2 linked regions of the Homo sapiens genome follow. The protein of the gene in region 2 interacts with the protein of the main gene of each other region in a biochemical or structural test. Each region holds a gene or a part of one and is shown on either strand. Other genes may lie near its edges.

Region 1 (7,276 bases), on a different chromosome or scaffold from region 2:
CACTAGTCAGACACTCCAGTTTTACACTCTTTCCTAGAAAAACAAAACCCAACCTTGTGCCCTCTGGGTTCTCTAATTTAGCAGCTACTATCTGTCTGTTTTTGGAGTGACACCCTGTGCAGTTTAGGATTTCAGAAGCTGTCCTGCATAGAGGCAGAAGGGAAAACAGCAGGTATCTTGTTAACATTCTCTATGGGGCAAGGCAGATGTGCCCAAGCTGGAGGAAACCTGCACACCCTCCAGGCTAGTTATCCAAGGCTTGGGAGGTTTCCCTCGGCCTTCTCCTAAGGCCTTGGCAGGACCCTGCCACCCTAAAATCAACTGCTGATTGCCTTTTTAGATTTAAATGATTAAGCTCTGCTTATGGGAATCTTCTTCTCTTTTATTTTGTTAAGAAACAAACAACAACAACAAAACCCACACCAATTCTTAGCAAAGGGGAATATCGAATTCAGATTTTGAAAAAATAAGTCATCATGCTTCCTAAAATAAGACAGCTTCTCCCTCTAACTGCTCTCTCTGCTCTGGTATTCTATCTAATCATAAACCCAGCTTTATTATTCATTTCAACTCCTGCCAAAGACATGAGGTCGGAGTCAGAGGAACTCCCCTTACCACCGCCACCATCATCATGGCCAGCATCCTCGTAAGTTTATAGAAAGATGCCAGAGAACCTTTCCTATCCATCTGCAGCCCTGCTTGGCCCTTGCCTCAGTGAATTTACCACTATCATAATCACAGTGTGCAGAGTGTGTTAAATTAAGAACAGAATCCACAGTACGCAATGCACAGAAAAGCCTGCCTTCTGCTGCAGAGAACTTGAAACTGTGCCTAAAATTTATAGTACCGTAAACATCTCAGGGCCTCGAGTGATAAGTATGGCTGGATTTCCGTTAACTATAGAAATCCAGGCAGGGAGATCCTCCCAGGGAGTTGCAAGTTCTAAGATGAACTTCTTGAAGATTGTTCCCAGATTTGTGCATGGGATACATGTACAGCAGACAGTTGTAAGGAGGTCCACGGTCATGGAAAAGAGGATATGTTTCTATATGCCACCAAGTGGGAAAAATGGAAGTGAGGGAAAATATTTGATTAATCAAAAAATTTTAGTTTGGATACCTGCTTTCATAGTAATTGTTGCTGTGTCATTAAACATACAGTTGCTTAGGAAAAGAGAAGGAAATAGGTGACTTTCTAATTTTAGAGTTAGGCTGGAACTGAGTGGTTGCTAAATTCAACTGCCCTGACAATGTGGGGATTTCCTGTCCATTAGCAGCGATTGCTATTTGACATATGTTTCTGGTGCCCATTAATCTGCCCTGTAATGGGTCAGAGGCAAAAATGGGGGATTCAGAGGTACTAGGTGGCTCTCTTAATTTAATAGAACTCAATGCTAAGGACGCCTCTATTTGTTAATAAGTAATCAAGTCATTGGCTACTTTCTGCTAAACACTAGACTATGATAGTGACCTTAGACCCCGGGCATTCTAAACCAGGCTGGCAGGAGGGTGGTGGTGGAGGTGATGTGAGGTAAGCCTCCTAGAGGAACTGTCATCCAAACAATCTGAAAATTGAAACATTATTAAAGGCAGCACTAAGGGTGGTATGTTGGAGTTGGGGCAGGAGCACTTAAGGCAGAAGGAACAGCAGGTGTCACTGCCTGCAGTTGAGAAAGGGGGTGGAATTCTCAAGGCCTTAGACCCCAGAGAACAGGACTGGGCAAGAGCTGACATTCAAGGGAGGAACAGCATGTACAGAGCCCAAAGTCCCAGCCACTTTCTGTTGGATACTGAGCAATAGGAATTCAGTAAAGGACTTTCAAGAAGAAGTGATGTGATCAGATCCACCTGTGGGAAAGATGCCTTTAGCTGCTTCATGGAGAAATGACTGGAGAGGAGGCCTTCCTTAGTGTTGCAGAGGCAAAGTAAAGAAAATGCTGCTGCAGTGACCCAGCAAAGAGGTGATGGCGGAGGAATCAGGCTGTGACAAGGGAAGAAGAGGCTGGCTCAAGTGTGTCTCGACTGCACAGACTTACACAGCGAGGTGGGGCCAGGGGCTGCATTTTTGTCTGAGAATAGTATTTCCTTAGCTTTCTAGAGCTTACAGTGTCTTTTTGTTTATGTTATCTCATTTGACCTTCCTAAACCTGTGAGATAACAGGTCAAATGTCCTTATGTCATTCCCATTTTTATAGAAGATGAAACTGAGGTTGAGCAATTAGTCAACAGACACAGACTCGCAGGCCCTCTTCATTCTAAAGCAAGGGTCCAAAACCTTTTTTCTATAAAGGGCCAGAGAGTAAATAATTTAGGCTTTGTGAGCCAGGCAGTCTGTTGCAGCTACGCAGTCCTTGGTTATTATAGTGCAAAAACAGCCATAGGCAGCATGTACAGAAATGAGCATAACCATGCTCCAACAAAACTTTATTTACAGGCACTAATGTTTAAATTTCAGGTAATTTTCACATGTCACAAAATATCACTTTTCTTTAACCACTTAAAAGTATAAAAGCCATTCTTAGTTTGCAGGCAGTACAGAAACAGTTTCAGCCCATGGGCTGTCATTTGTTGACCCCTATTCAAGAGGGTCTGTCACAGAAGACTCCTGCTTGCCTGAAATTTACGAGTGCATGTAAATGTTGGAATTAACAGGTGTGCCTGTTTTCTCTTATGCTGTCTTTCATCTTCAGGAACAGCCAGGAAGACGCTGCACTTCGAGATTTCCAAGGAAGGCAGTGACCTGTCAGTGGTGGAGCGTGCAGAAGTCTGGCTCTTCCTAAAAGTCCCCAAGGCCAACAGGACCAGGACCAAAGTCACCATCCGCCTCTTCCAGCAGCAGAAGCACCCGCAGGGCAGCTTGGACACAGGGGAAGAGGCCGAGGAAGTGGGCTTAAAGGGGGAGAGGAGTGAACTGTTGCTCTCTGAAAAAGTAGTAGACGCTCGGAAGAGCACCTGGCATGTCTTCCCTGTCTCCAGCAGCATCCAGCGGTTGCTGGACCAGGGCAAGAGCTCCCTGGACGTTCGGATTGCCTGTGAGCAGTGCCAGGAGAGTGGCGCCAGCTTGGTTCTCCTGGGCAAGAAGAAGAAGAAAGAAGAGGAGGGGGAAGGGAAAAAGAAGGGCGGAGGTGAAGGTGGGGCAGGAGCAGATGAGGAAAAGGAGCAGTCGCACAGACCTTTCCTCATGCTGCAGGCCCGGCAGTCTGAAGACCACCCTCATCGCCGGCGTCGGCGGGGCTTGGAGTGTGATGGCAAGGTCAACATCTGCTGTAAGAAACAGTTCTTTGTCAGTTTCAAGGACATCGGCTGGAATGACTGGATCATTGCTCCCTCTGGCTATCATGCCAACTACTGCGAGGGTGAGTGCCCGAGCCATATAGCAGGCACGTCCGGGTCCTCACTGTCCTTCCACTCAACAGTCATCAACCACTACCGCATGCGGGGCCATAGCCCCTTTGCCAACCTCAAATCGTGCTGTGTGCCCACCAAGCTGAGACCCATGTCCATGTTGTACTATGATGATGGTCAAAACATCATCAAAAAGGACATTCAGAACATGATCGTGGAGGAGTGTGGGTGCTCATAGAGTTGCCCAGCCCAGGGGGAAAGGGAGCAAGAGTTGTCCAGAGAAGACAGTGGCAAAATGAAGAAATTTTTAAGGTTTCTGAGTTAACCAGAAAAATAGAAATTAAAAACAAAACAAAAAAAAAAACAAAAAAAAACAAAAGTAAATTAAAAACAAAACCTGATGAAACAGATGAAGGAAGATGTGGAAAAAATCCTTAGCCAGGGCTCAGAGATGAAGCAGTGAAAGAGACAGGAATTGGGAGGGAAAGGGAGAATGGTGTACCCTTTATTTCTTCTGAAATCACACTGATGACATCAGTTGTTTAAACGGGGTATTGTCCTTTCCCCCCTTGAGGTTCCCTTGTGAGCCTTGAATCAACCAATCTAGTCTGCAGTAGTGTGGACTAGAACAACCCAAATAGCATCTAGAAAGCCATGAGTTTGAAAGGGCCCATCACAGGCACTTTCCTACCCAATTACCCAGGTCATAAGGTATGTCTGTGTGACACTTATCTCTGTGTATATCAGCATACACACACACACACACACACACACACACACACACAGGCATTTCCACACATTACATATATACACATACTGGTAAAAGAACAATCGTGTGCAGGTGGTCACACTTCCTTTTTCTGTACCACTTTTGCAACAAAACAAAACAAACAACATTAAAAAATTGAGAACAAGTATGGAAAGAATGAAAGATCAAGGAAAAAAGAATACCAAGTTACATTTCGTTAAGGTGCTTATGATCTTAGAACTATGCAACCTAATAGGTTTGAAACTGTTTACCTGAGAGAGAACAAAAAGAGAGACTTTTTTGTATTGGAAGTAATCTGATTAATTTTTATTTTCTTCAAGGAGAGATACTTGAAAGGAATATGTTTGTCCATCTGTTGGATCCAAACATTTCTATATTTTGTAAATGTTGTTGTTGTTTTTTTTTTAATCGTTTACTATTTGCACTACAATGGTGTTTGACCTGTCTAATCCTTATTTAACAAGTATTTTCTTTGGTTGGGGGTGGGGGTGGGGTTTAAGAGCTGCACTTAATGTGAGCTATAAAAGAACTGCTACAGCACACAAAATAGCTATTTTTATTATTATAATTATAATTATTATTATTATTTTGTACCTTAAAAAATAGACACATACACCAAAGACATTTGTGTGAGCCTTTAAACAGTCTGTCTGTGGTTGGTATCATTCACCATCAATGAGTCAGGGGTTGGGATTCAAGGTTGAGTAGTGTGGATTGTGTTCAGGCTTAAAAGACCTGAGAAGTTTGGTTTTTGACTCCTTTTACATCCATGAAACAGGACATTTCATACTGGATGTACAGTAGTTGTACACTGTTGGATATCAAGTTCAATCAAATTCATGGAACTACATGCTTGTATGTGTATATATACATTGCTTGTGCATATGCATATCTGTATGTATATATACATGTATTGTACCATGTCCATACACATTTTAAGCACTTCAGGCTGTCATTTTTTAATGTTCTTAAAGCAATGAATGTTTGTGTGCAAAACACAGTATTTTTAAGAAGGATAGGCTATAGTTTTTGCTTTTACTCTGAACTAGGTGGGCGCATTTCAAAAATTCGGATGGGAAAAAGCCTGGAAATTCCAGTGAATATTCAGCAAGGCCCTCTTTCATTGTACAGGGATCAAATTTCCTCCTCTTTTTTGTGCCCCCTCCCACTTCTACAAGTTATCCCCTGTGGGGAAAACAGGATGATAATCAAAACTCTGGGCTGATGTTTTTCCAACTTAGTGTCTATTGGAATCAATCTTAAATCAGAAGCTTTTTCAGAAAAATAATATTTAGGCCAGAATTAGAGTTGAGTGTATTTTTTAAAAATGATTAAGGCTTGGTTGTGAGAAATATTACCTGTACCAGCTGGGAAAAATAATGTCATCACTAACTAAAAGATAATTAATTTGAGAGAAAGTGTTAAGAGAGGGAGAGTAAGGAAGAGAACAGTTAAGAGGAGGCAGAGGTGAGGGCAGTAGTAAAAATCTCTAAAATTTTAATTTACAGCCAAAATTCTTCATGTGTAAATTTGTATTGATTCAGATGCAGAAATGAAAAAAAAACACCTTTGTTTTATAAATATCAAAGTACATGCTTAAAGCCAAGTTTTTATCTAGTTTATTCTAGTACTTAGCTTGCCTGGAATAGCTAATAAATTATTCATGTATGTGCTTTTGAAAATCCAGAGCCCTATTTTTACACACTTGTGTGAAGTTGGCAAACATTTTGAAAAATGGAAAAAAGTTTCTAATAATTGGGAACAATTACATTAATTAATATTTTGTAAAATATTGAAGCTTTTAGCCCTATGTCAATTTGTAGATTAAAATAAATTAATTATAGGAAAGGAAGATAACAGTGAGAAACCAAACATTACAAAAGGTGGTTTAGCTCTCCTTGAAAAATATACTAAGTTGGTATACTATAACACTTGGCTATATGTAGGCAATGTCACTACTGGGCAAATACACTTACTGTGTTCTAGAGGCAGCCCTTTCTTATGCAGAAAATACAATACGCACTGCATGAGAAGCTTGAGAGTGGATTCTAATCCAGGTCTGTCGACCTTGGATATCATGCATGTGGGAAGGTGGGTGTGGTGAGAAAAGTTTTAAGGCAAGAGTAGATGGCCATGTTCAACTTTACAAAATTTCTTGGAAAACTGGCAGTATTTTGAACTGCATCTTCTTTGGTACCGGAACCTGCAGAAACAGTGTGAGAAATTAAGTCCTGGTTCACTGCGCAGTAGCAAAGATGGTCAAGGCCATGGAAAAAGCAGAAATTTACCAAGAAAGCTGATACCCATGTATAGTTCCCACTCATCTCAAATACATCTGCTATCTTTTTAAGCTAAGTCCTAGACATATCGGGGATAACATGGGGGTTGATTAGTGACCACAGTTATCAGAAGCAGAGAAATGTAATTCCATATTTTATTTGAAACTTATTCCATATTTTAATTGGATATTGAGTGATTGGGTTATCAAACACCCACAAACTTTAATTTTGTTAAATTTATATGGCTTTGAAATAGAAGTATAAGTTGCTACCATTTTTTGATAACATTGAAAGATAGTATTTTACCATCTTTAATCATCTTGGAAAATACAAGTCCTGTGAACAACCACTCTTTCACCTAGCAGCATGAGGCCAAAAGTAAAGGCTTTAAATTATAACATATGGGATTCTTAGTAGTATGTTTTTTTCTTGAAACTCAGTGGCTCTATCTAACCTTACTATCTCCTCACTCTTTCTCTAAGACTAAACTCTAGGCTCTTAAAAATCTGCCCACACCAATCTTAGAAGCTCTGAAAAGAATTTGTCTTTAAATATCTTTTAATAGTAACATGTATTTTATGGACCAAATTGACATTTTCGACTATTTTTTCCAAAAAAGTCAGGTGAATTTCAGCACACTGAGTTGGGAATTTCTTATCCCAGAAGACCAACCAATTTCATATTTATTTAAGATTGATTCCATACTCCGTTTTCAAGGAGAATCCCTGCAGTCTCCTTAAAGGTAGAACAAATACTTTCTATTTTTTTTTCACCATTGTGGGATTGGACTTTAAGAGGTGACTCTAAAAAAACAGAGAACAAATATGTCTCAGTTGTATTAAGCACGGACCCATATTATCATATTCACTTAAAAAAATGATTTC
Region 2 (7,276 bases):
TGAGACCTCATCTCTTAAAAAACAACAACAACAACAACAACAAAAAACAGAACAGACCTGGGTCCTGGACCCTGATTTGTCACTTATTGGCTGTGTGAGTTGGGACAGACCACTTCTTTATCTGAGCCTCATTTTGTTTGGTGCTGACAGCCTATGAATCTAGAAAGGATCCTATAGTCATTTGCCAAGATGCTATTTGAAGGTCTCTTACAAAGGTCCTCATCTTAGTTTAAGTGAGATCTCAAGCCTGTTGTGGGTCAGAAATCTGGTGATATCTTAGGTGCTTTCAGAAACAGTGCTAACGGATGGAAATGTTCAAGTCTGTGTGGTATCAGGCTCCTGAGGTGTCGGAGCCCTGAAGAATGCCAAGGGCCTGTGAACACAGGTAACAGTTTGCTCCTCAGGCTATTCAAACAAAAAGTATTCTCTCTTTGGTTCTATTTCCAGCCATAGATTGAGCCCTAATCCCAATACAGACTAAGTTGCAATTCCAGCCACAAGCCAAGCCCTAGTCCTCCAACCTTGGCCACAGGTTGAACACCAATTCCACCCCTATACAAGACCCCTTACCCAGGCTGGGTCCCTGACCTGGTTACTGACCAGTACTGGTCCCAGCCCCAGGCTGAGCCACAGACATGTGTGATGCTGGTCACTCTAGACACTCGGCTCTTTGTGGATGAGTGTCCACCAGAGGCCTACTATCTTCTTACCTCCCTCTTCAGTGCTTTCTGCCCTACTCCTCTCAGCTCCTCTCTTTGGTTCTCTTCCCTAATTGTCCCTTGTAGGTGTCTAGTATGCTCTGCTTTCTCTTCCCTCCCTCCATCCAATCCTGCTTTCAGGAGAGTCAGTTACCAAGTAAAAACATGGGGCTGGGTGCAGTGGCTCACGCCTGTAATCTCAGCACTTTGAAAGGCCGAGGTGGATGGATTACTTGAGCCCAGGAGTTTGAGACCAGCCTGAGAAACATAGCAAGACCCTGTCTCTAGAAAAAATAAAGAAATTAGCCTGGCATGGTGGCACATATCTGTGGTCCCAGCTATTCGGCAGGCTGAGGTGGAAGGATTGCTTGAGCCCAGAAGATGGGGGCTGCAGTGAGCTGTGATTGCACCACTGCACTCCAACCTGGGTATCACAGTGAGACCCTGCTGAGAAAAAAACAATCCATGTATTTTTTTTCTTCAAGGGTTTTGTTTATTATGGGAATCGAAGCTTTCGTTCCCAGGTGATGAATTCCGGACCCTAGACGCAGGCATGGGACAGGAAGGGAGCTCCGCTGGTAGGATGTGATGTGGAGGGCAAACCTGGAATCAGAAAGTCATGGATCCAGCCCTGGCTGTGCCATCAATTCCAACTGTGACCCTGGACAGGTTGCCTTTCTCTACCTCTCAGTTTTCTCCCCTGTAAAGTGAGATGGTTGGACTCAAGTGGATGATTATTGAGGACCATTCTAGTTTTAACACTTCGTAATTCTAAGTCTCCAAAACCCAAAGGTGTGGTTGCCTTGATTCCGAGTCCACTCTGGCCTTTGGAATAGGGATGTGGGAGGGTGGTACTCCTGCCCTGCCAGGGAGGAGTGGACAGGCAGACCCTCAGACACCAGAAAAAAGTGCCTGGATGGCCTGGGGCAGTGAAGGTAGTGGGAGACCGGCCAGAGGGGACCTGCTTGTCTGTCCAGCTTAGTCGCATCCCCATCTACCTGTGCAGGTGTGCATGAGGCAGTGGGGAGCACCTAAGTGAAGGCCTGAAGTCCGGCTCCAGGCTGACTTCTCTCTGGATCTCTGACTGGGCCGTTCTGCACCTCTCCTCTCCCACCAGCAGAGGTCTCTGCCTCACTCACTGGCGCACAGGCTGCTGAGCCTGAGCCCGGCAACAGCTGCGCAGTTGCTCCAGCTGTTGCACCTGTTCCAGGACTGGCCTCTCAAGTTCCCCCAGCCGCCAACCATGGCGCCGGACTCTGGGAGAGGGACCTTGAATCCTTCATATTCTCAAAGAAAAGGACTGGCATGACAGCGGTGCCCCTGGGAGGTGTAGTACAGAGATCATTTCAGGCGTCCCCCTTCCTCTGTCCAGGACCCCATCCTCATTCTTGTACTCAGGAGTTCTTTTTTGTGTCTCGCCAGAAGCCTTCTGTTTACAAATTAAGGCCATTTCTTCTAGTCCTGCCTAGTAGGGGATGGGTGTCCCTGTAAGCATTCTCTCCACATCTGACGACTGGCATTGAAGATTGTGCTGGAGTGAATCAAGCTTAGTCAAGTCCTGATCTCTCTCTGGGACTCAATTTCCCACAAAGGAAACAGGGGACTGGATGTCTCTGAGTCCCTAGCTTTCTACGATTCTATGAATCTAAGCATATATGTCCAAGGCAGAAAAAAATGTGAACAGTCCCCACCCTGTTTCCTGCCCTTTAACAGGTAACAGAGCTGCCTTTCCTGGTTTGATAGTTCTCTCCCTAGAGGCCCTTCTATGTTCCTGTATGTCTGTCATGTGCCAGAGGGAAAAGTCAGGTTCAGAGAAATGCAGTTCCTTTCTCCGGGTTGCACAGCTCAGCCACTGAGGAGCTGAGGCTTTTCTTCTGATTTCCTTAAGAGGCCTCTCCCACCGGGTGCCAGAGCCCAGAGCAGAGCTTATGTCTCAGAGGGGAGCAAGTTTGTTTGTGTGAAGAGGGGATTATAAATAAATAGAGAAAGTATGGCTGTGTGGGTGTGAGGGAAGAGATGTAAACGTTCTACATTCCTGGGCAGCCTGGCTCACTCAGGTTTCCTGAGTTCTTGCAGCCTGGGGACAGGCCAGCCACAATTCCAGACCTCTCTCCTCTCACCCCGGCCCCTCCTGATGCCCTTTCCAAGGTCTTGACCAGCCTCCCCTCCAGCCCAGAAGCTTCTTTCTAGTTGTCTTTTCTGCTTCCTATTGGGGAAGAATTCTCAACCGCACTAACCCCTTCTAACTGACCACCATAAAAAAACCTTTTATCACAGCATGAGAGTTTCAAGCCAGACTGTGGGATGAGCTTGGAACTTGGATAGAGACAGTTTGGAAATTTTGACTTATGCGTGAAGATCATGGAATCACTCATCCCCTTAGCTACTCTGGGCTCCTGACCTTTTTGTACATGTTGTCATTTGGTTTGGCCAGTGGTTTGAGCATTCAGATGGCAGGGAGCTGGAAAGTGGGGGTTGTCAGAAGCTAATTTCTGTTAGGTGGCAAGGTAAAAGTGCTGAAAGGGAATTGGCCCTCTTCCCATATAATGAACTACTCCTTTTGTTAAAGAAAGAGGCTTCCAGGGCTGGGCGTGGTGGCTCCCGCCTGTAATCCCAGCCCTTTGGGAGGCCCTGGCGGGTGGATCACGAGGTCAAGAGATCGAGATCATCTTGGCCAACATGGTGAAACCCCATCTCTACTAAAAATACAAAAATTAGCTGGGCGTGGTGGCACTCACCTGTAGTCCCAGCTACTCGGAGGCTGAGGCAGGAGAATCGCTTGAACCTGGGAGGCGGAGGTTGCAGTGAGCAGAGATTGCGCCACTGCACCACAGCCTGGTGACAGAGCAAGATTCCATCTCAAAAAAAAAAAAAGAATGAAAGAAGCTTCCAGGACTAAGGACCGTCAATTGGCTCCTCTTCCAGAATCTCTCCCTCTTTGTTAACTCTGTTCTTTCATCATTGATTTCGTTCATCAGGCACGAACTCTATGTAGGCTCTACCTTGAGCACAAAATTTAATGAGATCTGGTCCTTGCTCTCAAGAAGGTCCCAGTTTGGTTAGGAAGCAAAGCTTACTTAAGAAGTACCTCTAATCCATTTGTGATGAGAATTGTAATGAGGGCTGAACTCAGTTCTGCAGGAAAGGCCAGTGGCTGGAAGTTTGGGGCAGCTTCACAGAAAGGGTAGCATCTAAGCTGGCTTTTGAAGAATGGGAAGGAGTTGGTCAAACATTGGAGATGGAGGATTCCATTCCAGGTGGAGGAAACAGCATGTTTGAAGGCACAGTAGGAGGAGGCCTGGGGGCTGGTGGAAGAGTGAGGAATTTAGCAAGAGGAGGTGAGGCTGAAAACAGGGCCACCACAAAAAGTTTTGCTGGAAAAGCAGGCAGGAGCCACCTCATGATAGGCTGGGGATGACACAGTGACATTTGGAATCTGTCTGGTAAACATTGCTGTCCTGAAATCAGATTAGATCAACTAAGTCCAGTCACTTTAAGTCTGTTCAGACAGGTAAAGAGATTTGGCTGTGGCCCATCCAAGTGGACACTTCCTGTGGGAAAGGGAGCTAGTGTCTAGCACTTTGGATATGCCAAAGAGAAGCCTCTGTGTCCTTCATGAACCACATCCACTCCCACCTCTGTGCCTTTGCATCTAGCACCCACTGCCTGAGAAGTCCTTCCCCTTCTGCATCTTGTTAATTTCTCCAAGATCCAGCTCAGGCATGTTCCTAGAGAAGCCTCGCCTGAAGACCCTATGCTCACGCCATCATAGCGTTTGTCAGACTGAATGTATTGTATCTATCTGTGTTCTTCACTAGGCTGTGAGCTCCTTCAGGAGGTGACTTTGTTTTAAGTCATGTACCAGGCCCATGAATGTGTATAATATTTGACATACAAAAAGTTCAATAAATAAATGAATAATGGGAAGTAATATTACTGTAGCAGTCCCCCAGTATTCATGGTTTCAATTTCTGAGGTCTCAGTTTCCTGTGATTAACCTTGGTCCAAAATGTTAAATTGGAAATTCCAGAAATAAAGAATTCATACGTTTTAAATTGCACATCATTCTGAGTGGCATGGTGAATTCTGTTGCCATCCCTCTCTGTCCCATCCAGAATGTAAATCACCCCTTTGTCCAGTGTGCCCACGCTGTAGATGCTCCCCGCCCGTTAATCACTTGGTAGCTGTCTCAGTGATCAGATCAACTGTTGCAGTATTGCAAGGCTTGTGTTCAAGGAACCCTTATTTTACTTCATAATGGCACCAAAGCACGAGTAGCAGTGCCAGCAATTTGGATATGCCAAAGAGAAGCCATAAAGTGCTTTCTTTAAGTAAAAAGGTAAAAGTTCTCAATTAATAAGGAAAGGAAAAAAATGGTATAGTGAGTTTGCTAAGATCTACAGTAAGGATGAATCTTCTATTTGTGAAATTGTAAAGAAGGCAAAAGAAATCTATGCATGGTCTATGTAGGGTTCAGTACAAACTGTGGTTTCAGGCATCCACTGGGGGTCTTGGAATGTATCACCCAAGGATGAGGGGGGACTACTGTATTACTAATGATAATAATGTTTACTGCCTGTTATGCCAAGTGCCGCACACTCACGTATGTGTTCAGTCCCGAAACCTCAATCCTGACCTTGATGGCTCCTTTGCCTTCTCCACCCATATCCTATCCAGTCTGTCCCAAAGCCTGCCCATTGTACCTCCTAAGTGTTTCTCAAATCTGTACTTTTGCCCATCAGCACAGCTTCCATCTTGGTCCAGGTCCAGCATGATCTCAAAACAGGATGACTGCAACAGCCCCTCCCTGGTCTCCCTGCCTCCAGTCTTGCCCTCCAATCAGTTCTCCATTCCTGTGAGCACAGTGATGATTCTAAAATGCAAATCTGATCATGGAACTCCCCAGTTTAAAGCTTTTCCATGGCTTTCCTTTGCCTCTCAGGCTCTCAAAGACCTCCGTGAGCCTCTGCTTCTCCTTCCAGACTGGTCTCTTGCCTCTCACTCCTGCCTTCCCATTCTCTCCTCCAACTTCTGAGCCACTTTCATCTCTGTATCCCCGCCCAAGGTCTGTGGGCCTGAGGTGAGTTGAGGCAAACTAATCTGATTTATGAGTGGGGCTAGAAGAATGCAGGAGGCCACCAGAATCATGATTGGTGCAGTAGTAAATGAGACCTGGGAGATTTGGCCTCAGTGTGTGCTATGATGTTCATCCCCTAATAGGTGCCTGGGGATGACCACAGAGAGCTCTGGGAGTCAAAGAAACACCACAGGAAACAAACTATTAAGGAAGTCTGGGGTCAGTGCCCAGATCTGTTTTTTTTTAAACCTATTTAGTTGAGCATATAATATATGTCAGGCACTAGGCATATTACATATATTATCTGACCTAATTCTACAGTAACTCTGAGAGGTAAAGATTGTTATTAGTTCCATTTAATAGATGTGGAAACAGAGGCCCAGAATGGTTAGGTAACTTGTCTAAATTCAGGCTGCAAATAAAAGCCAAATCCACAATTTGAACCCCAGCCGATCTGACTCCAAAGGGTCCCTGAGAAAAGTCATGCTTGGTCTCTGAGATGGGGAGGGATGCATGGGCACAGGTGGGATGAGACTTGGTGGTGGGGTGGGAGAGGAATCAGGGCAGGTCCAAGGCCAGGGCAGAGGTGGGAACGCCACAGAGGACCAAAGGGAGTGTATGGGAAGGGAGTGAGGTATGAGACAAACTCTACCTCCTTCACACTCAGGTGACACACCTGTGTCACTCAGGACTGGTCCTACTGGCTCCCTGAACTTCATCCTAACCCACTTTGGAGCCTCTGAGAGCCTAAGATGTATGAGACCATCAACACATCCAAGAATCATAGAATCTTGGAATGATCGAATCTTAGAACCACAACATTGGACAATTCTAGAAGCTTTGTGTTCTAAGGAAAGACAGGTTCTTAGAAACATGGAATTCTCAAAATCCTGAACCTTAGAATCCTAGAATTTTGGAGTCTTCAAATGTTGAAATCATGGATTCATAAAGTATCTATGCAGAAAATCTTTGAAGATCATAGCTTACCCCCTCCCCTTATTTTGCAGATGGGAAACTGAGGCTCAGAGAAAGGAGGATGAGTCTCTGAATGTCACACAGTGAACTTGTGGCTTAAAGAACTAAAACTGTTTTCACCAGCCATGTTCAAGGGTTGGGGCTAGTGCCAGCACTGCAGGAACTGAGGCGGCCTGTCGCCGTCTGGCAGTTCTTCCTCCTGCTTGGTTCTGGCATGGCCTTGGGCACTCATCTCACTTGAGGAAGAGAGAGCTCCAGGCCATGCCACCCTTCCTTGTGCCTGTCACCTTCTAGGGTATGGTGGGGTGGGGATTGTGGCCACTGGAGGCCTCCTGCCAGGCCCCCCACATTCTCAGCCTCTGCCAGGTCTGTTGGTGGGGGGAAGGGGCCTCCTGCCTGGGCATTGGCTGAGACACTCTTTCTGTCTTCATGCTCTGAGCAGGCGGTGAGGTGAAGGGGGTGCCAACTGGCACAGAGACCTGGGCTACAGGGCTGCCCCAAGGAAGGGAGGACAGGGCTTCTTCAG

What was found.
Region 1: the proteins of CHRDL2 (region 2) and INHBA form a complex in vitro, tested with the Homo sapiens proteins (one study listed by BioGRID).

What each region holds. Positions count from the first base shown.
Region 1 is NC_000007.14:41,685,956-41,693,231, reverse strand, and holds part of INHBA (inhibin beta A chain preproprotein), read left to right. Parts: intron 1-2,689; coding exon 2,690-3,582; 3' UTR 3,583-7,276. UniProt on the Homo sapiens protein: Inhibins/activins are involved in regulating a number of diverse functions such as hypothalamic and pituitary hormone secretion, gonadal hormone secretion, germ cell development and maturation, erythroid differentiation, insulin secretion, nerve cell survival, embryonic axial development or bone growth, depending on their subunit composition.
Region 2 is NC_000011.10:74,721,296-74,728,571, reverse strand, and holds part of CHRDL2 (chordin-like protein 2 isoform 2 precursor), read left to right. Parts: intron 1-7,276. UniProt on the Homo sapiens protein: May inhibit BMPs activity by blocking their interaction with their receptors. Has a negative regulator effect on the cartilage formation/regeneration from immature mesenchymal cells, by preventing or reducing the rate of matrix accumulation.